Linked DNA regions of Homo sapiens: all the other regions are reported to be linked to region 3. Evidence: microRNA targets listed by miRTarBase, many of them from high-throughput screens and not tested one by one. Region 3 holds a microRNA gene; each other region holds the end of a gene's coding sequence.
What was found. Region 3 holds the annotated microRNA hsa-miR-548h-3p (CAAAAACCGCAAUUACUUUUGCA, at 4,410-4,432, opposite strand). A microRNA usually pairs through its seed, bases 2 to 8, with sites in the 3' UTR of a target mRNA and lowers its output. Matches are read on the target gene's strand: a 7mer-m8 pairs with bases 2 to 8, a 7mer-A1 pairs with bases 2 to 7 and ends in A, and an 8mer does both.

Region 1 (7,162 bases), not on the chromosome of region 3:
TATTGTAAGAGATGATGGTGTCCCCAGATCTACCACTGGTCACAGCCAGATGACTTTCAGCAAATTGCTAAACTCTTTAAACAGTACTTTCCACATCTATAGAAATAGGCATAAAAATCCTTGTCTTGAGAGTTGTTGAGGGAACTAAAGGAGTTAAGTAGAATTCTTGGCACATGGAAGAACTTCAATGAATGTCTTTCTTACTTTTTCCAGCAAGCGGTTGTGGGTGGACTTTCCAATCCCCTCTCCTTCCCTGGGTACCTCACCCTCCCTGGCTTCTGTGTTACAGATTCTCAGCTGGCTGAGTGCCGGGGCCCTCCTGAAGTCGAGGGCGCCCCGCTCTTCTCACTCACTGAGGAGAGCTTCAAGGCCTGCCACCTGACCCTGACCCTGGATGATTACCTATTCATTGCGTTCGTGGGCTTCGTGGTCTCCATTGCTTCTGTGGCCACCAACTTCCTCCTGGGCATCACTGCCAACTGCTGCCACCGCTGGAGCAAGGCCAGTGAAGAGGAAGAGATCTGACATGCCTGCCTCTCATCCCTCCATGCTGCTGACCGCCACAGCTGCTGGCCACCAGACGCCCTCCCTGACTGCTCACTCTGGTTCCATGGTGACCTGGCTGCCTCAGTCATGGTTCAAGCAAGGTGGGGACACTCATTTTGTATGAGCATCTGCTTTGGGCCAGGCGGCACGCTAGGAATTGGGAACATCAGATGAACTGACTCAGTCCCTGCCCTCAAGGCACTTCCCTCTGGTCAAGGAGAGAGATCCAAAAACTATTCCCTTTAAGACTATATGTCAGGACTCTGAGCACGTCATTATGGAGGCCCAGAGGAGGAGCCATCATCTGTATCTAGCAATGTCCATGAGAATTATAAGATTAGAGTGATTTGTGAACTGGGTCATCAGGAAATATCTACTTTGTCAGGTAGGCAAAGAAGGGTGTCTGCACATGGCAGAGGCCAGAATATGCATAGTGTGCTGTGTTGAGAAGAGTGAACAGTTCCTGGTCACTTACTTGTATAGAGGGGGTGTGGCACAGAACTCAAACCTACCCCTCACCTCCTGACACCAAAACTGTCAGCTCTCAGCAATGCCAGCCACTGCCTACAGGGAGTAAGAACACCTCTATGACAGCCCCTGGCCTCCTTCCACCAGCAGCTACCAGGTGAGACCACCTCCCAGTGACTGCCCCCATATGACCAAATGTCACCAGTTGGTGAGGTCCCAGGCAGCAGGCTGAGGATGGACACTTTCAATGCCCTTGCTCCTGCCTCTCACTCAAGTTTTGCTTCAGAAGAGAGAGGCAGGAGGCCCAGCAACTGGGGCAGCAAGAGTCCTGGCACCTTGGGATCCTAATCATGTGACTGTTCTTGCCACAGTGCTCATGCCACAGGGTCTCACCAGGAAAGTGCACTGTGGGCCACAGACCCACAGCCTGGCAGCACCCAGAGCTAAAAGGGGACAAAGGCAGCACAGTTATGACCATATGAGGCTTTGCATTTTCTTCTAAGCAACTTACCCACGTTAAGCATGAGGGTGAGAGAGCTATTAAATACTAAGCCCTTGCCAGTGTCAGGTACTTTGAAAAGCTCTCTGCACAAACCATTCCCTTTGACACACACACACACAAATCTTTTGAGGTGAACGCTGTTGTTCCCATTTTACGGATGAGGCAACTAAGGCTCAGAGAGGTTAAAGTCACATGCCACTATGAGCAAGATAAAGTCTGTGCTCTTTCTACTGCCCCATCCAAGTTGGGGAACATCACCATTCCCTCTAGAGTTATATAAATTCAAATTCAACTAGAGCTGACAAAGTTCCTCATAAGGTCCAGGCACTCCTCTGGGCACTTTTATATCTATTGACTCACTTCTTTCAATTCTCACAGCAACACTGCCTGGTGGTTTTTATTATCCCCATTTGACAGATGAATTAATCGTAGAGAGTTGAGTGACTTACCCAAGGTTGTCTGGATAAGCCCTAGAAGGAAGGCGGTAGGCAGCTCCATTCAGGGAAACTGCATCTAATCAGTCAGTCAAAAATCAAGTAACTTTACGAGCAAAGCACAATTATCATCATCGTGGTCTTCTTCATCAGTTTCGTCAGCAGCATCATTATCTTCCCTCTATTTGTTCAGCACCGGATAGTTCATGAGTATTTTTGCATCATTCTCCTTGACTTTTCACATCCCTGTGCAGGAGGTAAATCAAACATCAGTAATCCTGTTTTACAGATGGGGAAAAAAGTCTCAAGGTTGGATATGACTTGCTATGTGGCAAGGTTGGGGCTCAACCCTAACACAGTTCTCTTTCCAGTGCTTTCTCAAGTGCTTGGGGAAGAGAATGCCTCAGAAGGCTGGGTAGTGGGGCCCTGGAATTCAGCATCCATGAATGTGCTAGTGGATAAGCTAAATAGAAGGCAGCCAAACCCATCTGCTGTACAGATTGAACTATGCTCACGGTAGGGCAAATTGCAGGCTCTGAAACAGAGACTACACAGGTAACACCTGAATAGGAGACTCCTGCTTTACAATGTGTAGATAAAACATCAGCAATGGTGGCCATGGTGGCAGTCATGTGAAAAGTAAGATCTTTGGGAATCAAGAAAGGAAGCTGTGTTAACCACTCCTGCTCAAGCCCTGCTGCGTGTGTTGCAAGAGATACTAAGAGAGCAAGAAAGCTATAGGTGAGAACCTCTGCAGTTTAGGAGAAGAACATCAAGGCACAGTCCAACATGCTGATAAGTCTGGCCAGGAGGAGAATTAAAACAGGGGCTTTCCACACCTCCCTTGCCCCAAGCTCCAGCGGTATTCTATCAGCCCATCCTCCTGGAAAGCCTGAAAGGAATGAAGGAGGCTAATAAGTCATCTTCCAGGAAGGCATCCCTCACTCGTGCTTCCCTGAGCTAGTCAACCAAAAGAGTCTTCAGAAACTTTGCTAGACCTGAAGTACTTGAACCTGTGTCCCCTGAATCTTTCTTACAACATCTGGGACAAATCCCTGGCCCTGTGACATCCGAAGCAGAACTGTGCCCTGCTCTCTCCTTCTGTGATGACCAAGGATGGTGAACTCAAGTTGTTCTCTACAAGCCAGGCCAGCAACCTAAATACTTGGAGAGGAACTTTTAGAAACTATAATCCTGACAAAATAGAAAAGTTTCCCATAGGGGCATACCATAATACTATAATAACCTCCCAGGAACTATTGTTTGCCAAAATGTAGTTAATATATTTTAAGATATATGCTTTTTTGCATAGGACTAGAACCAGAAAAGACACCAAATGCCCCCTTGACATCAATGTCCTTTCTAGTGGGACAATTTGGTCTCCATTAATGCCAAGCCTTTCTGAACAGGATACATGGCTTTTAAAGGACAGATGTTTCTCCTGCTGCTAGAAGTTCCTCAGTTTACTAGAGCACAATGAGGAAAGTATTCAACCTCCCTACTGCCAAGGAATTCCCTGCTTCTCCCCCACCGCCATCATCTTGTCCAAGCTATCAGAAGCAACCTTCTAGAGATAATCTAACAATCCTGATTAGAATTGCTCCCATATCCCTGGTGACCACAGGCTTCATTCAAATTGTCCAAACTGGTTAACATGTATGTGATGGGGTATCTCTGCATCTGTATGTCTGTCTGCGAGGTTCCTTGTATATTGGCTGTCCGCTGACTTGGGACAGATCTCTCTAGAACTTGGGTTCAGTTCTCTGACATAGTCCACTCAGCCATAGGCTGAGTGGCTAAATATGCATAAATAAGCATGCCTAAATAGGCATATATAGGTTGGTGCAAAAGTAATTGCGGTTTTTGCCATTAAAAATGATAGCAAAAATCCCAATTACTTTTGCGTCAATCTAATATTACATTGCTTGATAGATTAAGATGGAATCCCACCAGGTTTAGGGTAGGACTGGATGCTCAAAAAATAAAGAAGGAGAAAAATCTGTGGCAGAGGCATCCTAATGAGAACCTGACTTCTCCTTGCTTCCCTCTGCTCTCTCCTGCGCCTCAGAGACTTGTCCCCATTGCAGAAGCTTCCTCCATGCTAGGCCAGAGGATATCAAAGTTTAGTTTGGTCAAGATTTGGGCCAAGAAAATTCCTTTTTAGAAGAGCCCTCATATCTGAATCACATCACTTTGGGCCAGTTATCTCTGGTCACCCTCAGACAAACCCTCGTCTCTTTTTCTCCCTTCCTAGAGGAATTCCCAGGGAACTTTGCAGAAATAGGTCTCCAGAGTTGCTACAGAGGTTCATGGCTCCTTTCGAGGAGGGACATGTATGAAATTTGAACAGATCAAGACAGGTGTTTGTCTTCAACCATGGGGGAAGACCTCCAGCTTCCATTTTCCCCTATACGTGTCTGTGCTGACATCCTTTCCAGCAGTAGAAGACTAAAAAGATATATCTTAACCCATTCCTCAAAAGGACATCTTCCTAAAGCCAGAGAAAATTGTCTGCGCTTCCCCACCCCAGGAAGAGGCAAAAGGGAAGTGAGGGCGTCACAAGGTCTTTTGTAAATCACTATTGTGTTTGTCACAGCACTGGGCGGAGAGCTGGATCCACAGAGCTCTCAGTTTTTCTAAGCACTGTCCTGTAATGTGCTAATGTCTGGGGGTGGGAGGGCTGGGGAGGGGTGGGGTTAGAGGGAAGATGCCAACCTTTGTATGGAGATGATTTTATAACCATGCACTTTTGTAACTGTGCAGAATTTTTCATAAATGTACATTAATAATAAAGAGTGTATAGTTTAACAAATTTTCCTAAGAGCTGTGAAGAGGGATAGGGAGAGGGAGGGAGGTAGAGAAAGAAAGAGAGAAAGGAACTAGGCGGAACCAAGAGAATGTGTGCCAAAATATACGCACAAAAGGTCTATGGGAGGGAGTGGATGGAAATAATTAGGAGATGTGCCAGCCATGGAGGGGCATGTGTGGGAGTTGAAGGAACATCACAGAAGTATATTTCTACCAGGCAAAAAAAGAATACGCGTGTGTCTGTATGCACATACCCCTCTGTGTAGGCATATTTTGGTGCCTGAAATTACACAAAGAAGAGAGCATATGTCTTACACATGTTGATGTTTGCAACTTGGGTCGTCCATAAAACATACCAAGGCAAGTGGGTGTGCCTGCCTAGTTAGCATCACTGAAGGGTGTGTGATAAGGAGATAGCACACACCAGCAGCATGGGCAGAAAGACATTAACTCAGGCATGCAGGTAAATCAGGCATCTAAATGCATGGTGTTGGGGCTGGATGAGGCCATTGCTGGTATAAGTTCAGCCTCTGTTCTCATAGGTTAATAAAGAAGGGAAAGGATTCTAAACCTCCTGGGTTTTGCAAGTGTTGCCTGTACATCATCAGAAGTGAGATGCCTAGGCAGTGTACCTTGAGAATAGGGACAGGAAAAGAAGGAAAGTGTACTTCTGTAGGTACAATGGCAGCTGTTTTTATCTTAGTATTCTAAGTAGGAAGTGGCTGTAAGGAAGTCAATCCAAGCAGGAAGTGGCTCTGAGCAGAAAGTAGTTCCTTCCACCAATAGGGATGTTAACCTCCCTCTATTCCTCCCACTCCAATTGCCACAGGGTACAAACAAATACCGCACTCATAGCCTCTAAATGGAACACAGATACTGACTCAGAACACTTAGCTAAACAGAGAACATCTTCAACTGTAATCAGTGTTTTCTAGAGTAGATTAGAGGGAGGCAAAACCCTTCTCTTCAAATTAAGTATTTAATAGAGACTATGCTGAACAAGTGCAAGATCAAAAATAAGGCTCCTGAAATAAGCAGACATCTCATGAAAGACCAGATCTTGCATATCCCATTCAATGCTGTTCATAGTGCCAAGGACTGATGATGGTGATGATGATGATGTTGATGATGATGATATATTTACTCATCACTTACTGTGTGCCAGCTGCTCTGCTAAGCACTATATATGGATTAATTTACTTAATTTTCACAAAAACCCAAGGTAAGTACTATTATTATTTCTATTTTACAGATGAGGCAACTGAGGCACAAACAAGCTAACGTGCTTAAGGTCACATAGCTAGTAAGTAGTTGATCTGAGTTTAGACACTCAGTAATACTTGGTGACTGACTAACTTCAGAAGACAAGAACAATGTGGGCCATAAGAGAAAATTCAGTCTCAGTCAAAAGTAGGGTTTTAGCCACAGAGGTCTTTATATCAGTTTATTTTCACACTGCTGATAAAGACATACCTGAGACTGGGAAGAAAAGGAGGTTTAATTTGACTTACAGTTCCACATGGCTGGGGAGGTCTCATAATCATGGCGGAGGGTGAAAGACACTTCTTACATGGCAGCAGCAAGACAGAATAAGGAAGAAGCAAAAGGGAAAATCCCTGATAAACCCATCAGATCTTGTTATTCACTATCACGAGAACTGCATGGGAAAGACCAGCCCCCATGATTCAATTACCTCCCCCTAGGTCCATCCCACAACACGTGGGAATTCTAGGAGATACAATTGAAGTTGAGGTTTGAGTGAGGACACAGCCAAACCATATCAGTCTTCTGTGATTATTTGGTGAAAAAAATTGGAGAGTAATAGGTAAAACCAACAAGTATCCTATCTGTTTCATTGCAAGTAGCTTTAATGGTTGCATTGGACAAGGTAGACTAATTGTGATAATAGGTGATTCCAAAATCTCAACAAAGTAGAGATGTGTTTGCTAGGTTATTTGACACAATTAATTCTTATTTCCTGCTCATGTCATGTCCCAAAGCATGTCAGAGGCTCTGCCTCACATGGTTATTCAGGGACCCAGGATTCTTCCATCTAGTGGCTCTGCCATCTCTGAGGCCATGGGAATTCTCTACAGCATGGAGGATCTCAAGGACATTTGCAGGAGTCAAAAATAGAAGCATTGTACTTTAATTCCCGCATATTCCATTGGCCAGAACTGAGTCCCATGATTTCATTTAACATCAGGGAAGTAGACTAGCTGTGCACATAGAAGGCAAAGGAAACAGACTTTGATCAACTCCACCAGTCTCTAACATGGTCTGCTCTTCTTGTTACCAAATACCTGTTTCACTCTTCCTCCACACTTATCTTACCCTGTCAGCACATCCAGGTCAAAGCTCAAGATCGCCAATGTTCCAGTATCTCCATCAGGTCTCTTGGTGG
Region 2 (7,000 bases), not on the chromosome of region 3:
GAAGGAGAGTTCACCCCTAGTTTTACTGCGTGATATTTCTAATTGTTTCTTATCTTTTGCATGAATAGGAGAATTCTTTCTAAAAACTTAATGGGGTATGGTTTATGGCATGCTTTTTGTTTAATACACTATAAATTACTGTCATTTAATTACAGTGAAGTATTTTTGACATTTTATAATAAATGTTTTGATTTATCCTTTGATTTTCTATAATCTGTTGCTTTATAAATTATGCTAAAGCTTAATTTATGTAAAGCATAACTGATTTGGTGTTAATCATTTAAAAAGATTGCTTAAAATACTTAATGTTAATTAATCTTTGTCATTTCTTTGTTTAGGAAATACAGAATTAACAGGTCAAGAAGAACTGATGGAGATATCTGAAGTTGACGAGGGATTTTATTCCAGGGCTGCGTCTAGTACCAGCCAGTCGGGTTTATCAAACAGTAGTCACAATTGTAGTAACAAGCCAAGTATAGGAAAGAACCACAGACGGTCAGGAGGAAGCAAAACTGGAGGAAAAGAAAAAGAAACTACAGGGGAATCTTGCAAAGATCACTTTGCTCGAAAACAAACTCAGAGAGCCCAAAGTGAGAATCTTGAGCTTCTCTCTTTGAAGAGACTTACTTTAACAACCAGCCAATCCCTACCTAAGCCTAGTAGCCATGGTTTGGCTAAGACCGCAGCGACTGTATTTAGTAAATCCTTTGAACAAGTCAGTGGTGTCACAGTCCCACATAACCCGTCATCTGCTGTTGGTTGTGGGGCTGGGACAGATGCCAATAGGTTTTCCGCTTGTAGTCTCCAAGAAGAAAAGCTTATTTACGTTTCAGAAAGAACTGAACTTCCAATGAAGCATCAATCAGGTCAGCAGAGACCTCCTAGTATTAGCATTACTCTGTCCACAGATTAATTAGTAACATATTTTTCTCCCATAACCTAGTGAACCTGGAAATACAACTTTGCTTCTTTATGAAAGTACCCTGGGTCTTTCATCCGTATTCCTGACAGGAGCCCTGATGTCTTAAATTCTGAAGGCTCCCCTGACTTTATGAAGGGAAGATTGTCTAGGTTGCAGTAAGTTGAAATATGGTTTTGTTATTTCTTGATTAAGATTTTTTCCCCTTGGTTTGAGTCTTTTTTTTCCCTCCTCTTATTTGTTATTGTTGCCCTAAGATTGTCAGTGACAATAAATTTTGACAGGTTGTCTAATCAAGTTGGTTATGTCTCATGTGAGGTTGTAAGGTGGTTTTTCTTGTTTTGGTTTGGTTTGGTTTTTTAATAGCTCCTATTTTGATGGCTGTGTGTTTGGCCTTCAGAGTCAAAGGGAGTCTGCATGTATGGGAACTGTTTTATAGAGAATGGGGCAGAGGCACAACTCCAGGAATTCTCTAGCTCCTGGTCAGGAAGCCAATCTGAAAACAGGCATGTGGAAACACAAAAATGATGTGTATGAAAAGCACCTGATGAAAATATTTGTAAGCAGATCATCTTTATGATTAGAACAATTTGCTCAAAGCCCTGGAAAATGCCTGGTAACCCAGTGCCTAGAATATTATATGATTCCAGGGGATGGCTAGAGGCATTTCTGTTGTTATCTCTGAAACATTTTTATATCAAAAATCAGATTGCTGGTAGGTGTGTTGTTTTGAAGTGTTTTATCTGGATTTAGCATGTGAAGATCCCTTTCAATTATTAAGGTATAATAGGCTGTAAAGCTGATTTACCCTACTGCTGGACTTTGGAAATCCTAGTTAGTTTGGACTCCTATAATTCAGAGCATACGTCATTGGAAGACTTCCTGGAAATCAGTGTAAATCTTGCAACATAGCTCTCAAGATACCACTGTATAATATGTAATTGTTTGTCTGCAAATGCATTTTTCATCTATAAAATGTCATGAAAGAAAATAAAGGTAGTGAAATATGGACAAAGGACATTTATATATTAACTAAAGTTGTTTATGTTTGTGTTCTTAAATTTAAAACACGAAGAAAAAGAAATGTCTTTCTTGTTAGTGAACAGGCCTGTTTTAAATATCTTAGTATGATATCAAAAGAATAATCAATTTAGTTACCTCCCAACTAAAAAGTAAAAATGAAAAAGACGACATGGCAGAAGTTGAAACAAACTTGTATGTATCTGTATGTGACCTCTAGATGGAAATAAAAGTTTGATGTTTGCTAGCCGTGGTCCTTTTGGCTATGGTTGCGGTTCCCCTGTAAAGCAAATGTACTTAAGTCATCATTCAGAGTGAGAGAGAGAAAGCACGGCTGAGGCTGAGTCAGTTGACCGTTGAGGAAGACCTAAGGAGCTGTCCAGTTCTTGGCTCTTTTTCACTGTGACTGCACAGCGGTTTCCTTCTTCATAGTCCCTTGCTGTAGTCACCAAGAGAGCATGCTAGTGTTTTCCTCTTGTTCCTGCTTATGCAGAGCTCAGATATATGAAAAATTTGTATGCTTTGAAGGCTGCCAAAGCATTTATACTCTGGACATAGTTTTAACTGCAACTGCTTTGGCTACCAGTTTAAACCGAGTTCTTCAAAAAGCATGAACTCGTTTTCATTCATTAGCCCTGTTTACAATGTGGATTTTGACATAAATGAATTTGATTTTCTTTTAGCTCCAGTAACAGAATGGAATAAGATCTATTGCCATAAATTGTAGTTAAGAACTGTAAGGCAATCGGGCAGTGAAACTTGATATTGTATTAACTTAATAGGAACCCTGTGTACAATTTAAAATATTTGTAAAATATCACTGTGAATTTACAGATGTCTTTTTGTCATTCTTTAACAATGAATTTCCCCTGTGCATAGTTATTAATAGTATTGGTATTATTAAAAACTAATTTGGCATTTTAAGATTGGCATTTTAAGCAAGTTGAGGTGCTTAGGAAACATTGTAGAATAAGTTTGGGGAAATGTTAGCTGACAGAGCTGAGAGATCAGATTTTCATGTTCTATCACTGTAATGGAACCTCATTTAGACCTCTCTAGACCTTTGCTAGCTGTGTGGTCTGAGGACCAGTAAGTAGGATTGGCATTATCTGGTATCTTGTTAAAAATGCAGAATTTCATGCCACTCTAGGTCTACTAAATCAGAATTTGCATTCTTAACAAGGTTCCCAAGTGATTTTTATGAGAAGAAAGTATCAGAGTGCAAACAAATTACTCGTCTAATATGTAGAATTCCCAGTGGTCTCACAGCCCTAGATCAAATGTGTCAGACACTAGATCATTATAATCTTCATTGGTTTTGACAGCTAATTAATTAGTTTAATAATATTGACATATGGCTTCTTAAGTATTTGAATTCTAGATTGCTAATGATCCTTATTTTTGCAGTAAAAAAGTAACACTTTATATTTTTCTTGTTAACTATAAATGGAATCAGAGCTGTAAATGCCTGAAATTTTAAGTGTGAAAAGGGGTGCCACCCTTTTATATACTGCACAACAAATTTGCATTTGTATATTCTTTTTAAAAAATCTCTGAAGACTTGCTCAGTGAAATGGTTCTGATTTTTTGCTTCAAATGATTTGCACTAATTGATTTTCTGGAGAGCGGAGTTACGTTAACAACAAAATTCTTTTATAGTTCCTTTGATACTATTTCAAATAAGGATTACACATTGAAAGTTTTTATAGAAATTATGAAAATTGGATAATCTTAACTATGGTAACCATTACTATTATCCATACTACTTTCTCCCCACTGAACTTTCAAATTTGAAAATTGGGGTAGCTTTTGTAGGTCACTTTCTTATAAAGATGCTGATGGTCACAGATCTCCTAAGTATCCAGAATAATATTTTTATCATGAGAAGGATTCCACACAAAATTGGGGTCTTGCACCCCATATTTCAGAGGATCTGAACAGAAATTGTGGCTTCATTGCACATTTTAAATCTCTATAGATTCTTGAAATCACCCAACCTCTCACATTTGAAAACCCAACGGCCTGGAGTATTCTGGTGGCACTGGAGCCAGCACTAGCTTTTTGGAATCCAAGTGGGGAGAGAAACAAAAATAGACTTTTCAAGGGACTGTCCCAGACTACCCAGGGCAAATGTCTTCCCTTCCCTTCCTGAAGCCACAGGAAAGCACCCTGGAGTCCTTTGTATACCACTATGGAAATTTTTAAGGCAAGCTCTCAAGACTTGAAGAGTTGGAATTCTCGGCATTTAAATGATGCCTGAAGTTTGTTTTGAAAAAGCAATATTTCATTGCTCTTTTCAATTGTGAAGCAACTGCTCAGCAAATATTACTCATTTTTTTAAAAAGTTGAATTAAAGGGAAATATATTTTTAAAACCAAAATAGATCAAAATGATCCCAGTTTTAAGGGATTTTGCCTATTTTGGAAGAATAAAACTAAAATGTTAAAACTGTTGAATTACAGAGAACAGATGTACTCTGAGACATAATTTTAAACAAATATTTAAAATAAGGCAGGTTAACATTTGCGTTTAGGCACAATAAATCTGTATTAAAGGGAAGCACATCAAGGAAATATATACATGTTGAATAATGTAACTGAAAAATATTTTTTAAAAACCACTTAAAAAGAAAAATAATTTGATGGGTACTTTAAGCATTGTAGATAGAAATTAATGTATAATAGTGTCCTCCCAGTCTTTGTATGAAAAATTAAAACTCTCTAGTCCTTTAATGAGCATGAATTTATACTTCTACATTTGTTGCTTAGTAAAATTATACTCAGTACTTTGAGTTATTCAGATTTATGTTTAATATTGTTAAATTCTTCATCAGAGAGCATAAATATATTGTCTTCTATACTTTGTAACTTGTGCATATCTAAAGAAACTAACAACGAACATTTTGGGAGATGTTTTTGTGTTTTTTTATAGTAGAGTTTTAGAGTACATTTGTCTTAATAGGAAGTTTTTACCATAAACCCAAGATTTTATTTCACGTATTGTTGCTTTCTCTTATATGGAACTTATTGTGTACCTCTTACCTTTATTTCTAATCATTTAGTGATACTAATCTTTTCATAGTAAATATATTTGTTTCTAATTGTATTCCTAGAGTTTACATTCCTAAAGAATAAACGACGACTTTGGCTATTTTTGTGTGTTCCCTACCTTCTTAAGGCTATGGAAATAAACTGGAGTTTAGTTTTTTGAATTTTTGTATATTTGTGTAAATGTTCTCCATATGTAGTACTTTATACAACAAGTGTTGCCTCTTGTTTTATTGAAATAAAAACTGAAAAAAATATTTTTTCCAGATCAGTTTACTCATTTAAAAAATTATTATAAAAATTTGCAGAAGTTTTGATATGAAGGAAGAGAATAAAGGAGGAAGACTTAGGTAAGTTGAGCCATTGAGAGCTTTTGGGGGTAAGTGATAAGACAATGACCTCATTCCTGGCTTTGTGCTTTACATGTCATAGGGCTGAGGAGTATGACAGGTCCACTCGTATTCATCCAAAGATGAAGATGAGCTCTATGGGCCATGCACCAGTGGCGGATTATTTGTCATATCAGAAGCACAGGCAAATTTAGGTAACATCACTTTGTCCTTCTAACTTTAGAATCTTTATTGCCATGTGTGGTGAGTAGTAGTCCCAACTACTCAGGAGGTTCACTCGAGCCCAGGAATTTGAGACCAGCCTGGGCAATATAACGAGATCTTATCTCTTAAAAAAAAAAAAAAAGCAAAAGAAGAAGAAAGAGTCTATATCTCTTGAGTACAGAGATTATATGCCCCTAGTACCTAGATAGGACTTTGTGCGTGGTAGGTATCTAGACATTTATGAGACAATAAATGAGTTAGGTTGATGTTAGCTTTGGAAAAGAATCAAGGATAAGTCTTCAGTGTTTTCTTTAACAGTACAATTTTAGAATTTTGTTTGTTGGCTTTAGGAAATCTCAGTGGCATTACATGAATTGCATTATAGCATGTACTTAGAAAAAAGAACTTATGGCTGGGTGCGGTGGCTCACACCTGTAATCCCAGCCTTTTGGGAGGCCGAGGTGGGTGGATCACCTGAAGTCAGGAGTTCAAGACCAGCCTGACCAACATGGCGAAACCCCATCTCTACTAAAAATACAAAAATTAGCCAGGCATAGTGGCGGGCACCTGTAGTCCCAGCTACTCAGGAGGCTGAGGCAGGAGAATCACTTGAATCTGGGAGGCGGAGGCTGCAGTGAGCCGAGATCATGCCACTGTACTCCAGCCTGGGCAACAGAGTGAGACTCTATCTCAAAAAAAAAAAAAAAAAAAAAAAAAAAAAAAAACAGAACCTATTAACCTATTAGACACTTGAAAAAATTCCTGGCTTGTAGTTGATTATATGTTTGGTTAATTCCATTTCATCTAAGGAACTAAGTAATTTAGGAAATGTGTTCTTAACTACTCTTAGAAGGGTACTTGTAGAGAACCAGAGTGGTGATTTTGTAAGCAGTATTTTGTCCTATACAATATGCACTCTTCCAGTAACTCCAGTAGTCCACATAGCTGACTCACCTCCTACAACCCGACTTTGTTAATATCAAGATAACTGTTTTATAATTGTAGAGAAAGATTTTTTACAACCAGTTGTAGTTATTATTTTCTTTGCATTATGTTATTGTGATAGTAGTGGTAGCTAATATGTGTAATTAAAATGATCATCTTATCCTCAAAATCATCCTATAAAGTGCATAGAATCCCCATTTTACAGAAGAGGAAACTGAAGCTCTCAATAGGGTAGAGGACTTGGCTAAGGTCACCTAGCTGCTGAGTGGCAAAACTCAGCCTTGAACACAGGTCTTAGGACTCTCACTTTATATAGCTTGGTAAAAGAAGATACTAATTAAATCCTACCTAATAGAGATGTATTTAAAATTCACTCACCCCATCTGTCTTACAGGTAATAGTTTTAAGGTAAGATAAAATCAAAGTGTTCTAAAAGTAAATCATAATACATTTTACAGAATTAGAGATAATTGTGTTTTAGTGGTCAAACAATGCTCGTTATTCTGTTAGTAAAA
Region 3 (7,162 bases):
CCTGGAAGCCGTTTTATTTCTATCACTGTAAGTGGTTTTGGTGCAAGTGGCTTCTGTGACTAAGAATGGCATCCCACCTGTGAAGGTCTCTAGGGTAGATTTCAGTTATGCCATGGAGGAGAAAGAAGTACTGAGTCCTGGCCAGGCACAGTGGCTCATGCCTGTAATCCCAGCACTTTGTGAGGCCAAGGTGAGTGGATCACTTGAGGCCAGGAGTTCAAGACCAGCCTAGGCAACATGATGAAACCATGTCTGTACTAAAAATACAAAAATTAGCTGGGCATGGTGGTGGGCGCCTGTGGTCTCAGCTACTCAGGAGGCTGAGGCACAAGAATCGCTAAAACCTGGGAGGTGAAGGTTGCAGTGAGCCAAGATCATGCCACTGCACTCCAGCCTGGGTGACAGAATGAGACTCTGCCTCAAAATAAATAAATAAATAAATAAAATACTGAGTTGGTCCCAAAACATTTGACAGATAGCTGTTGAATCTCTATGGTAGGCCAGAAACTCTTTTAGGCATTAGGGCTGCAGTGAAAACTAACTCTCTAATCTTATGGGGCTTCTATTTTTGTGTGATAGGGAATAAACATGTAAACAAGGAAATAAGAGAACATCATGGAGTAATCAGTGCTACGAGAAACAGTGGAAGCATGGGAAGGGGATGGCGGGTGTTGGGGAGTCAGGATGGGTGGAGATGACCTTACTGAGGAGGTGATACTTGAGCAGAGAAGGGTATGAAAGGTATGAAGACAGGAGCAAGGCATGCAGGTAGAGCATTCTAGGCATGGGGAACAGAAAGTGCAAAGTCCCTGAGTTGGGAAAGTGCTGTGTGTTCAAAGCACAGCAAAGAGCACAGGGTAGCAGAGGCACAGTGAACGGTGGTAAGTGGTATGTAGGAGCCAGCCTACACTGGTTTGCAGAGCCAACTGTTAAGTTTTCAGGAATTTTGCCAGACGGTTGCTAAACACAGCCATTCTTAAACATTAAATCATATAAACTTATAACTGAACATATCACATTAAAACTAAAACTCACCACTTCCTAATTAGTTTGCTACATTTTTACTGTTATCTATGCCCTTGAAGTTATGTATATCTGAGTGTCTGTAAGGTGGAAATACTATATAATGCTTCAGTCCTGTGCATCTCTTCCCAGCTCCGAGTTCAGTGTGGTTGACTTGTTAGCTTGAAATCAGCCACCGTAGGAGAATTACACAATGGAAATGGACAAATGGTACAAATCAAGGCATACCTTAATTTTTGTTGATTGCCTAGACTTAAGGAAGAGGTGGAGAAAATGTTAATAATTCAGATTAAATGTAGAAGAGTTTCATGCTACATTTGAACAGCACAAAAAATTGAGGAAATATTCTTCCAGTATTTGAAAACTGTTATCCAGTTTGGCAAAGAACATCCTCTTGTTGTCGACACATGGGGAAATTCCAACACACTCCTTTATTCTCTTACTCTTGTCTTACTTGTTAACATGTATGAAAATATCAACCAACATTCATGCCAGGATGGCATATGGGGAGCCAGGTGTTACCCATTTATTATCACACAGATGTGTCAGAAACATAGCTGGGAATCAGATTAGACAGGCCTTATATATCAAAGTAAGGGTGTAAAAATTTTTAATTGTGAAATGGAAAGCTGTGAGGTTTAAAACAGAAGAATAAGATGCTCTGAATTCTGTTTCGGCCTGGTGCAGTGGCTCACGCCTGTAATCCCAGCACTTTGGGAGGCTGAGGTGGGCTGATCACGAGGTCAGGAGATCGAGACCATCCTGGCTAACACAGTGAAACCCCGTCTCTACTAAAAATACAAAAAATTAGCCTGGCATGGTGGCAGGTGCCTGTAGTCCCAGCTACTCGTGAGGCTGAGGCAGGAGAATGGCGTGAACCTGGGAGGTGGAGCTTGCAGTGAGCCAAGATTGCACCACTGCACTCCAGACTGGGCGACAGAGCGAGACTCTGTCTCAAAAAAAAAGGATCATTTCAGTAGCTGGGAACAGAATAGAGCATAGGTGAACAAAAACAGAAAAAGTGGGGCTGAGTTAGGAGAACATACGTCAGCTTCCTCTGGGTAGCTGTGGAGGTGATGAGAAGCAGTTCAACTTGAGCTGTATTTTTCAAGGAAATGTCAACAGGACTTGCTGAGGACTTAGATGTGGGTTAGAAAATAAGAAAGATAGCACAGATGACTCCAAAGTTTTTGGCCTGAGCAGCTGGAAGAATGGTGTAACTGTTCAATAATAGGAAGCCAAGTGAAGCAGAAATAGATTGGGGAAAGGATTGGAATAGAATAAAGAATTCTAGGGCAGCACAATGGCTCATGCCTGTAATCCCAGCACTTTGGGAGATTGAGGAGGGCAGATGGCTTGAGGAGTCCGAGACTAGCCTGCTCAACATGGCAAGACTCCATCTCTACTAAAAATACAATAGTTAGCCGGGCATGGTGGTGCACACCTGTAATCCCAGCTGCTGAAGTGGCTGAGGCAAGAGAATCGCGTGAGCCCGGGAAGTGGACGCTGCAGTGACCCGAGATTGCGCCACTGCACTCCAGCCTAGATGACAGAGTAAGACCCTGTATCAAAAAAAAAGAAGAAAAAAAAAAGGAGTTCTGTTTTTGATATGTTAAGTTTGAGATGTCTATTGTGTCCAAGTGGAGATGTTCAGGGTGAAATTGTATGGATTGTGTTTTTCATAGCATAGGGATTCTAGAGGACTTAATAGTAAAAGAAGCAGTAGGAAGATCTCAGAGGAGAGGATGAGACTAGAAGGATTCAGTTGGTCAGTGCAACTTATGTCTCACGTTGTGTCTGAGGATGACAAGAGGTGATGCATTGTGGGTAAAGCTGACTATATGGTTATTAAAAGAAAAAAAAAAGTCCAAGAAGTCCTAGTAAATGGAAAAATTTAGGTCTCCCTGGATGAAGTCAGCCATAGCCTGGGTTGATTGTTCTGCTGAAGAGAGCTTAGTCAGGTGGAGAGTGTGGTAAAGGGATAGCCATTACCCCCAAGGCTTCAATACAAGTGGAAAATGCAACAGCTTTAATCCTAAGATTCTTCCTAGATTCACAATATGTGTGTGCCCTGGTCCCAACCCCTCCCTACTCCCCTCATTTGCCCCCAGGCTTCGTGAAAGTGATAGCAGAATCAGCCATGCTGATTCCTCAGCCCAGTGCACTGGATGGAAGTTAATGCCCAAAACTGATTTATCTTCCTTGAGGCTGGGAAAAGGGATGAGTTGGGAAAGCGAACAACTAGAGGTGTTTATGAAGGAGGAACATCTGGGATGCCCGTGGTGGTAACGTGGAGTGCTGCAAAGAGGACTATAGAGAAGGAAGGCAAAATGCTGTTTAGAATCCACAAACGTGGAATCAGTGCATCTCATTTGCTGGCTCTTACCATAAAATGAGCATCAGTATCCCTGCCCTGAGCTTGGGTAGCTTATCAGAGAAGATCGCTGACACTTTTGGAGCCCATCTGAATAGCTCCCTCTGAAGCCATCCAACTTGACCATGATCTGGACTTCCTACTAGACCAGTATTTTGCCTTTGCCTGATCTTTCAACTTCAGCTTCTGCATTTTCTTCTAATTAGCCCTTTCTTACCCCACCAGCACTGCCAAAATGGAGACTTCCTGTCCCAGTCTCAGACCTTGTGGAATTCACACCTCCCCTTTCCATCACCACCTCCCAACCCTGCCACAATATGGACTACCTGTTGTTACGTTGAGAAGATTAAGACTACACAGGCAGTTAGTTTAGGGAACACCTTCTACAGTTGGTGAAATCTATTTTTAAGATCATGAAATGTCATACTACTGCCATATATACTAATTTCCTCCTCCTCCTTTCTCTAAAACTGTCACTCAAGATAAAAGTCAGCTGGGCCGGGCAGGGTGGCTTACGCCTATAACCCCAGGATCTGGGGAGGCCAAGGCTGGCGGATCACCTGAGGTCAGGAGTTTGAGACCAGCCTGGCCAACATGGCAAAACCCCATCTCTACTAAAAATACAAAAATTAGTCAGGCATGGTGGTGCACACCTGTAGTCCCAGCTACTCGAGAGGCTGAGGCTGGAGAATCGCTTGAACCTGGGAGGTGGAGGTTGCAGTGAGCCAAGATCACGCCATTGCACTGTAGCCTGGGCGACAAGAGTGAAACTCCATCTCAAAAAAAAAAAAGGGCAACTGGTGAATGCTGGGAATATGAATATCAGGGCTTGTGCTTGTTATTTTGGGGAATGACAGAAGACAGACCCAGGCAGTGTTTTTTCCCTGCATTCATCCTTTTTTCCTTTTTCTTTATTTCCCATTTATTTTATTTAAGTGTGATTTAGTTTGTACAACATTTATAAGAGGAATGGAAAATAGACAAGAAGTGATGATAGCAAGTATTAGGTTGGTGCAAAAGTAATTGCGGTTTTTGTCATTAATGAAACGTAAAGTAATTAAAGTAATGACAAAAACCGCGATTACTTTTGCACCAACCTAATAGCTTTGGAAATGGAACAACGAAGGATCACAAGTTTGGCTTCAAGTTTTCTGTGGTACACTTGCCACAAAAAGCAGGGGGCAGAGGAAACTTTTGGAGGCGATGGATATGTTTATCATTTTGATTGTGATGATATCATGGGTGTATATGTATACCCAAGCTCATCAAATTGTACACATGAAATACATGTGGGGTTTTTCTGTCTATCAATTTATACTTTGATAAAGCTATTAAAAAGAAAAAGGCAGAAATGAGCTCAAATTTTAAACTGTCTTTATTCTTTCATTGAACAAGCATTTATGAAGGGCCCGCCATGTGCCAGCTCTGTGCGAGATATTGATGTGACTCTGGGAAGGCAAGCATTGTCCCCAACCCTGCACATCTATCAGGGAAAGCAGAAGCAATTGCCATCACGTGCTAGGACAGGGAAGTTTGGCACCATGGAAACGTGTAGCAGGGGCAATCCTGGTGTGGGGGTGGGTCAGGATTGTAATTCCCAAATTGGAGACTGACTCACACAGCTATCAGTGACAGGCAGAACAACCTCCACAGACTTCAGCCAGAGGGGGGAATTAGCCATTTTCTTTTATATCACCGTTTTATTCACACATCAGCATCCCCTCATTCCCATCCACTTATTCCTGAAAGCAGGCCCTTTTTGAGGCTCCAAACATAGTAATTAAACAAAGGGGATTCTAGAAGGTGGACAAAGCATTAGAGACAGCTTCATTGTATATAAATGCCAAATTTTCTGCATCAGTAAGGTTGCAGCTGTGACAAGAATTAGGCTGCTTTCTAGGTCATATATTTTCTAAAGCACTAGGCAAAAAAAATATTAACACATGAGGGGAAAAGAAATAAATAGACTCAATTGTTTTAAAACCTTATGAGTAGACCATTTTTTAATAATACAATGAATACTGCTTATTGAATAAACAAAGAAATTATTTGTTAATATAAAATAGAGCCACATTCTCTGGTTAAATCGTGAATGTGTAAAAAATTAAGTTCTCAATTTAATCTGTTCTGCACAAGATTCTGAATGAAAGATTAATTGGATATAATGACACTGATATTATTTTCTGTATAATAATAATTCTATACATGTTTGGCAATTTATAGTTGTAATTCTATGAATCTGAATTTTTAAAAGTTAACTACAAATAAACAGTCTCTGTAAATGAGATATATGGGGTAGGAGACTGCTTACATGGGTATGGCTAAAGCATAAATTTGAAATAATATCTGATTCATATCAGAATTTATCAGCCTGGGCTGGATAATGTTTAGTCACAGATGAGACACAGATAAGAAAATTAACACCAGATTGGTAATTAAAAGTGCTTCCTGGGTATGAATGACACCTCTGAATGCAGCATGAAATAATTCCTTTTGTATTCTGCTCCACGTTTTCTTTCATCTTGTGTTTGGACATTAGCCACAGAGGGATTGATGTTTACCGCAAAGAGCCTGGAGTCAGAAGATCTATATTCTGGTCTCAATGCTGCTAGAAGTTAACTGTTAGATTTTTAGAAAAAATAAGTTCTAATCCTCTGTTCAGCTTGCACATCTGCAAAATGAAGATACTTTTTAAAGCAAAATTGAGAAAGAAATAGAACAAAATTATGCATGCAAAAATGCGGTGAAAATTTTTAGTTAATGCAAATATAAAATATCCAAATAGTCTATGCACAAATATATTTATATATCATAACAATGGAAACTAAATTATAATTGAAGGGATATCAAAAATAGAATTATAGTATTGAAACAAATAAAAGCCAACAAGATTGAATATGTGTGTTTGTGCACGTATGTTTTAAGTGGTGAGATACTTCTAGATATTATGTTGTTAACATATTACCAAATTGTTTAACTCATATATGCGTATAGTTTTTGGTAATATGAAACTGTGCATAGAAGGAGATGATCAGTAATTTATTTGGCTGTCTAGTACATGTTGAGTCACTTCTCCATATAAAAAATTAATAAAGAAGGCTAATAAATGGGCTCCTCACGTGAGGGCTAAAGACAAAGACAGATGCAGACGCTTTGTTCCTGAAACCTCTAGCTTGGAATATGTTATAGTCCTGAGACAAAGCCATTCACAATTAATTCCAATGGTAAATCTCAGTTGAGCCTCGGGGGTGTGAAGGGGGACTGATACAGCATAGTCGGTTTGCCATAAATATGCCTAAATCTATAAAAGATTCATCACATTAAAAGAGGTTTTTTCTGAACACTATGCTCATTTATCAGATTATTTGGAGATTATTTAGTATGATAAAATACAGAAAATACCTCACTACATTTGTAAAATCTTTTCAGAAATCAATTTCTAAGTTTTTAACAAAAATGTCATGATAAGACTTCTAGTACTATAAGATGTCATAGACCTTCTGGTATAGGCACAGCAGTCTGAACAAACACCGAAATAAGAGGGGCACCTTAAAATCTCTAGTCAAACGGACTGGTAGAAACCTTCTATGCAATCTCAGTCTACTAAGAAGTAGGTTTCTACCTAATGTAAAAAAACCAATACTGAAAATCAAGGAAAAGAAAGAAATAGGAACAAAACAAACAAACAATAAGACAAACAAACAAAACAAACAGTAACAAGATAAATCTCCAAAAACATACTTGAATGAAGTGGAGTTTTGTGAT
Region 4 (7,162 bases), not on the chromosome of region 3:
ATACATGTGCACATGCTACATACATACACATATGCACACACATGAGGAAACTCTACCTCCTCAGTCAGCCCAGATAACTGATGCACATCGGGTCACCTTTCCCACCCTGATCTCCTCACATGCACTATCCCCGGGCCCTCACAGTGCTGCACTGATGGTCATGAGAGCCCCAGCCTGGGCACACAGGCACACAGCCTGCTGCTCACACAGGCCCCCTCCCCCCTCGCTGCACCCCCCTCACCCCCAGCAGCTGCGGCCCGGCCTGGATGAGGGAGGCCCCAGGATTCGGATGGGTGACTCAGGCTGAATCATGGCCCAGCTGCTCCTTGGCAGCCCTCTCTCCCATTCTGCCCGAGAGCCTTTTTTTTTTTCCTTTTTCTTTTTTGAGACAGGGTCTTGCTTTGCCTAGGATGGAGTGCAGTGTCATGATCACAGCTCACTGCAGCCTCCAATACCTGAGCCCAAGCAATCCTCCCACCTCAGTTTCCCAAGTAGCTGGGACTACAGGTGTGAGCAACTGCACACAGCTAATTTTTAGTATTTTTTGTAGACAGGGTCTTGCTATGTTGCCCAGGCTGATTTTGAACTCCTGGGCTCAAGTTATCCCAGAGAGCCTATTTGGAAAGCAAAGTTGGATCTTAGGGCAGGGGACAATGAGTTGGTGGTAGACAATAAGGGATGGAGCACTTGAGAGGGAGAAATTGGGCACAAGAAGACCTCTGTGCCCTCCTCCACTCCCTGATATCCTGCAGGTGCACCCAGGCAGCCCCCACCCATGTCCCTCATTCTGCCAGGGAAAGGAGTCCTTCCGCCTGGACCCTGGCCAGGGGCTCCCTCTCTAATCTCAGGGCCAATTTTGGTTCCCCGCCCTACCTCTTGGTCCTAACAATGACAATAACAATAAACAATATTAACTATTCTAATTGATCACTCCCAATTTACAGCACCCTATAATTTACGAAGCACTTTCTCATCAGTATTGCATTAATTCTCCTACTAGTCCTATGGGGTGGAAATTAGCATCCTCATTTTGGGGCTCAGGAAACCAAGGCTCAGAGAGGTTATGTGAACTTCCACTGCCACAGTTGGTGGGGTGACAGAGTCAGGAAGCAAGCCTGGTCCAATCTGTGGAGTAAGCACTAGGGCCAGAAGTCAAGTTGCAGTTGGGTGTGGTGGGCACACAGTAGGAGGTAGGTGGGGGTACTGCAGGGGCATGGTAGGGTGCATGGCAGAGGGCATGGCAGATGCATGGCCAGTGGCTTGCTGTGTGGCAGGTTTGTTGTAAACTTTTTCTCTCTATCCTTCTGTAAGTAAAGAATTACAGAATGATTTATGCTTTCAAGCTTTCTTTTCAGTGTGTCAGGCTGATATCCCAAGGCTCTCAACCCCACAGCATGGAGCTTCCACTGGGCTGCAAGACTTTTGCTTCTTGAAACCTCTATTTCCTCATCTGAAAAAATGGGTCCAAGTTTCGGGCAGGTAGGCTATTGAGAGGTGCAAGTGAAATCATGGTGCCCTTGAGGAGCCAGGAAGGACTTCCCAAAGGCCGCTGCTTGTCACATTTTGTTTTCTCTTTTTAAAAAACACGATGGGTGCTGGGCAGAGGGAGGGGTGGGCTTCTAGGAGCCTGGGGGTGGTACTAAGAGGGGAGTGGGTGACAGCTCTTCCTTCCCCTGCCTGGGCTCGGCCTGGCCTTCCCCCACCCTCAGCCCAGAGCCTGTTTCCAGGCAACAGGATGGATGCAGGGATGGTTTGAAGGGGAGAGAGCTATAAATAGGGAAGGGAGAAAACAAAAATAAAGTTCCAGAGAAAGCTGTGGAGCTGCATTGCTGGGGGTGGGGGTAGGGAGACCGACGAACAGCGGGGACGGGGGACAGTCCCCAGCCCTCCATCAGTGGGAGAGGGCAGTTTTCAGGTTAGCCACCCAGCAATGGTCCTCAGGGTGCTGACATGGGTGGGAAGGCAGTCTCTGTGTGCACAGCAAAGCAGGATGGGGGTGAGGAGGAGAAATCACTTCCAGTCAGAGGACTAACAAAAGCTCAGAAGAGGGAGGGTTGCGGCAGGCAGAGGTGACGGCCGCTGTCTGGATGGAGGAGGAGGCAGGCAGACAAAGGGAAATCATGGGCCAGGTAAGGTGGGGTTGGATCCACGGATCTCAGGAGGCCTGGCTGGGCTCAGCCTGATGGCCACACTGCTGGGGACACACAGACACAGCGAGGTGGGCTTTTCCTCCATCTGCGACACTTGCCACCCCCCAGGTCTTCCCATACCACCCTCTCCTCCATCAGGTTTCAGCTCCAACCTCCCCTCCTCAGACAACTCAGACAACTGACCTGACAGCCTTCTTTTCTTTCTTTCTTCTTCTTTTTTTTTTTTAGACGGAGTCTCGCTCTGTCACCCAGGCTGGAGTGCAGTGGCTCCATCTCCGCTCACTGCAAACTCCGCCTCCCGAGTTCACGCCATTCTCCTGCCTCAGCCTCCCGAGTAGCTGGGACTACAGGCACCTGCCACCATGCCCGGCTAATTTTTTGTATTTTTAGTAGAGACGTTAGCCAGGATGGTCTCGATCTCCTGACCTCATGATCCGCCTGCCTGGGCCTCCCAAAGTGCTGGGATTACAGGCTTGAGCCACCGTGTCCGGCCCCTGGCCGCCTTATTTTAAGGTTGCTCACCACCTCCTCTTCGTCGCATTCTATCACACCGCCCTGCTTTGTTCTTCGTAAAACTCAAGATTATCTTGTTCCATGTATTTGTTGGCCATTTTGTGATCACTAGGTGAGCTCTAGTCGGAGCAGTGACCTGAGGGCTGTTCCCTGCAGCCCCTCCTCCATCTAAGGACAGAGCATCTGTGCCACGCACACTGTCGGACTAAACGAACCCGCAACATGGGTACATGCGTGAACACTGATACAGACACAGCACACTTCATGCCCATACCACCTTTGTAAGTGTGCACACATAGCTCAAACCCACCCACATACACAACCTCGCTACCTGGCTCCATGAAATTGCACAAGTGTCCGTAATCTCCACGCTGCTACCTCCACATTTTCCTGTGTCTTTTGTTTATCTCCCCTCAGAGGCAAAGCAGGCCCCTTTTGGAAATTCCAAAGGAGGTGGGCTTTGGAGACAGGCTTGGGGCCAAATGTGGCCTTTGCCACTTCCTAGCAATGGCGACAGTGGGCAGGTAACTGCCTCTCCAGCCTTCATTCCTTCATCCATAAATTGGGGGTAAAAAACAAGAAAGACTTGATGGCAGTTTCCAGTGAAATTACTGGAGATAAGCGTTTCATGGATATACTGGGCACTTGGGAAATGGCTTGGTCCCTGTCACCAGAGAGAGCCCATGAGATGTGTGGGCTCTCACATGCACACGGTCAAGGCTTCTGACACGAGGCTGGTATCTTGGCTGACACTTCTAGGCCTGTGCCTGGAATGCATTGACCCTGGCAGATGAGAACACTGGTCTCTGAGCAGAACCATTCTCAGTGGGACCAGGTGTGAGGGTTGGCACCCAGGAAGCAGGAATGAATCTCCCCACAAGCCAGATGGCAAACCTGGTTTTGGCGTTTAAAAATGGGGATCAGGTGCTGGTAGCTGGATTGGAGGCGGCAAACTCAGTCTTTAGGGGCCACGCAGTGCATGAAAATGAGTGAAGTGGATGGGTGTGATACAAAAGGAGGGGAAGGGACTGCGACCAACTGGAAGTGTGTCCAGCCTAAAGGCATTCAAATTTTACAATTTTAAAACCTTGTGCTCGCAAATCAAACATATCTACAGGCCAAATTCAGCCTGAGGGCCACGAGTTTGCAATCTCCACGGATTGTGGGTTGTGAGTAGCATCTTAATTCAACCAAAAGGGATCTGGAGCTCCTGGCATCCTCACGTAAGTGACTCAGAGAATCCAAGCCCACCGGTTTGTTCCCCCCCGCCACCCCACCCGCCTCACGTCTGCCAGCTGCCTCCTACTTCCGGAAATAAAGGTCCCTACCCTGCGGGCCAAGGTGACCTGAGCAGAACGGTCTCCCGCAGCGTTCAAGGCCTTCTTCCCGGCTTGGCACCACTTCTTGCCCCCAACAACTCAGGGAAAGAGGAGGCGCTAACACTCGGGGGCTAACTGAATAGAGCAACCTTCTTCCAGCTAGAGGCTGGAGGGCGAGGCAGGCTTGCGGCACGAATTGAGGTCGCACTGAGGTTTAGAATAGGGCAGGGTCTTGCGCAGGCGAGTTTGGGGGCCTCTGCGGCATAGCCACGCCAAGAGCCAGTCCGGGTGGGGGCGGGGCCTCTGCGGGACGGGGCGGGGCCTCGGTGCAAGCGCGGAGAGAGGGCCTCTGCGGCAAGAGGGCAGGGGCGGGGCCTCGCGCAGGGACTGCCTATGCCAATAAAGGCAGCGCATGGGGGGCGGTGCCTCTGCGCGGAGCCAGCAGTATCTCCGCCCCCATCTTTCTCACTCTGAGGCGGTGTTGGGGGCCCCCTAGTGCTGATCCTGATCCGCTCAAGGCTCCCGGGCGGCATCCCAGACCTCTGCGGGCCCTCGCCCACCTCAAACTTTCGGCCTCAAACATTCCGGCGCCTTCGTGGGGGTGGGAGGGTGGAGCACCGGAGGCCAGGGCTCTGCTGGCTGCAGGGGCAGTTGCCCATTTCCCTTCCCCTTAGACAAGTTTTTCTGCTTTGGGCAGGTGCGCGCGGGGCTTTGTGCGTGTCCACGTTCTGGAGTGGGAGAGGTCTTTCAGCGCTCGAATGGGATGCACGTGTTGGCCAGCGTGCATGCACGCTCGCGCGGCCAGAGTGCGCACACTCGGGTTCGCGCATATGGACCCACGGACAGGCACGCGGGTCCGCACGTGAGTGGGCATCGGCGCGCCTGCGCTACCTGTGCGGCCAGTTGTGAGCCCTTCCGCCCCAACGCTGCGGCGGCATGGGGCTTCCCTAGATCCTGCACTCCCAGCTGGCACTTTAGGGACTAGCAGGAGGCGCCCGAGGCCACCTTCCCGCCTCCCAGCCAACTGCGTGTCCCAGCCCCGGGGGCACCCTCCCCGACCTGCCTTCCGGGGGACAGAGTGGGAGATGGAGACGCGAAGCCAGAGGTGGCCAGTCTTGTACCTGGGCTGTGTGTGCCAGACCCCAAAGAGCACAGAGGGGTAGGCTGGGACCTGGAAGACTCGCCGCCACGTGTCGCCCCCACCCGGCGCCCAGCCCAGCCCTGCCGGTGCGGCTCTGGCTACAGACAGATTAGCTTTATTCATGGACTCTCGGGGGCGGCCGGGCCCACCCGCCCGGGACACGCTCACATGGGGGGGATGGGGACTCTCCATGCCACAATCACAACACACGACGCCCGCGTTCGGACCGGGCCGGCTGGGATGGGGGGCGGGGGACATGGCACAGCCTGGCTCCTGGTTTTGGTTAAAAAAAAAAAGGTTCTCGAGGTTAATGGGAGTCGGGCGGGGTGCTCTGGGGCTGCCCGGGGGCCGCTTGGAGAGCCACTGTCGGGGATCGGGGAGGAGCCGTCGCTCGGATCTTCGTTTAAAAACACATAGAACATGCTACATCCGCGCAGACGCTGGATGGGAGGAGGCAACACTGGAGGGGCGAGGCTCCCAGCCGCGACCGCAACCCTGGCCCTGTCCATGCCCCGGGGTTGGACGCGGGCGGGTAGGACAGACAGATGGACAGACACTAACACAGGCTCCGAGGGGGTTGCCTCAGAGCGGAAGGAAGATCTCGTGATTGGGGAGAAGGAGTCTAAGGACAGCCCTGGCTCTGGGGGGCGGGGCAGGGACAGGGACAGAATTGTGCTGCTGGTGGGGGCTCTCCTGGGCCCCTACGCCTCTGGCTCATACTCCTGATATTCCTCCTGCATCACCGGGATGGGGGTGGAGTAGAGAAGAGCAAAAAGGAGGAGGAGTTTGAGACCAAGTGGCCAAGCCCCGGCCCAAGAACCCTCTCCCTGAAGGAGGAATAGCACATTCCCCTTTTCCTGGGCAGGGGAGGAGCCTGGAAGTTGGGGACAACAGAGAATTCTTGGGCAGGTGTGCCTGGGGCCCAGCGCTAGACCCTATCTGCCCTCTCCTCCCTGCTCCCACCTCCTGGGGCCTGGGTTCTAGAAGAGGGATGTCAAGCTCCCTGGCCCAACCATCTCATGCCAGGGATGTCCCACCCCAGCTAGGGACGGCAGCAATCATCCTGGATTCCCAAAGTCCCGCCCAGCCCTGCTGCCCCCTCACCTGGGGTGGGTCCTCATAACTCTCCCCTTCTGGCTCCATCAGGGGCTCAATCAGTGGTTCTTCAGCAGCTTCCTGGGCCACTTCCTCTGGCTGTGGGCAGAAAAGGTCAGGACTCGTGAGGACAGCCAGGATGCCCCCCAAATTCCCACAGTGGTAAGCTTTGGGTGGGTTGGAGTGGGGAAGGCTAGGGTGGGTTGGCAGAGCAAGGATAATTTCTAATTCAGTTATTTATTTGGAGTGCCTTGGAAGTGGGATGGAGGTGAAGGGGGAAATTCCCCCGAATCACAGTTGAAGTGGCAGCATGGAGTGGGAGCTGGCTCTCCACGCCGCTCCCCCAATGCCTGGCAGCCTCCACACTTCCACCATTTGGATACTCAGTCACCAGCTTATGCCTCATCCTTTGTGTCAGGCTCTGTGCTGGGCATCGGGACCCCAGAGATAACCCTCAGGCTCCCCTGGGCTGAAGGGAGCTGGAGGCTCAGGGACAGGGCTGGGCAGGGGCTCTGAGCCATTCCCCCGCCACCTTCCACTCATCCCTCCCCCGGGCCCTGTGTGGCCTCGTTTCTTCAGCTGTTGCTATTTTAAGATAAGCTGGAAGCCACAGCTCGTGGTGTTGCTTGGATGTGTGAGCTAAGACTCTCCCCCCCACCCGCTGCGTCTGCTGCCCAGACAGGCGCAGACCAGCGGGCATGCATGTGGGCGGGCTGCCAGACACATGGCCAGCCACCTGCAGGTGACCACATGTATGTGAACAAACATGGGACTGAGCTGGCTGCACACACAAGCACACGCGATAGCTTAGGATCCATGCACAGCCTGTGCAGTGCCTCATGTGGGGCTGGCACACGCCTGGGATCCCGGAGCATTGGTGCTGGGGAAAGCCTGCCCTGACCACGTCTGCACCCTGGGTGTCCCAGCTCCATCCAGGCAGCGTC

Region 1: miRTarBase lists LRRC55 as a target of hsa-miR-548h-3p. Seed matches in the 3' UTR shown: 8mer at 1,909-1,916 and 7mer-m8 at 3,809-3,815.
Region 2: the mRNA of HYCC1 is a reported target of hsa-miR-548h-3p. Seed matches in the 3' UTR shown: 7mer-m8 at 1,248-1,254, 7mer-m8 at 1,273-1,279, 7mer-A1 at 3,639-3,645 and 7mer-A1 at 4,904-4,910.
Region 4: miRTarBase lists SNCB as a target of hsa-miR-548h-3p. Seed matches in the 3' UTR shown: 7mer-A1 at 5,528-5,534.

What each region holds. Positions count from the first base shown.
Region 1 is chr11:57,186,956-57,194,117 of GRCh38, forward strand. LRRC55 (leucine rich repeat containing 55) reads left to right here. Exons shown (of 2, transcript NM_001005210.4): 2 at 290-4,762. The coding sequence ends at 525. LOC105369309 (a long non-coding RNA gene) reads right to left here. Exons shown (of 7, transcript XR_007062670.1): 3 at 7,093-7,162; 4 at 1,966-2,196. Among named protein-coding and RNA genes, the nearest start is that of LRRC55, 8.6 kb to the left of the region's middle.
Region 2 is chr7:22,939,502-22,946,501 of GRCh38, reverse strand. HYCC1 (hyccin PI4KA lipid kinase complex subunit 1) reads left to right here. Exons shown (of 11, transcript NM_032581.4): 11 at 339-7,000. The coding sequence ends at 913. Among named protein-coding and RNA genes, the nearest start is that of HYCC1, 71 kb to the left of the region's middle.
Region 3 is chr8:27,044,462-27,051,623 of GRCh38, forward strand. It overlaps MIR548H4 (microRNA 548h-4), which reads right to left and starts at 4,502; the gene lies at 4,392-4,502.
Region 4 is chr5:176,614,987-176,622,148 of GRCh38, forward strand. It overlaps SNCB (synuclein beta), which reads right to left. Exons shown (of 6, transcript NM_003085.5): 5 at 6,228-6,317; 6 at 5,096-5,857. The coding sequence ends at 5,825. Among named protein-coding and RNA genes, the nearest start is that of GPRIN1, 8.4 kb to the left of the region's middle. RefSeq lists a silencer at 4,206-4,475.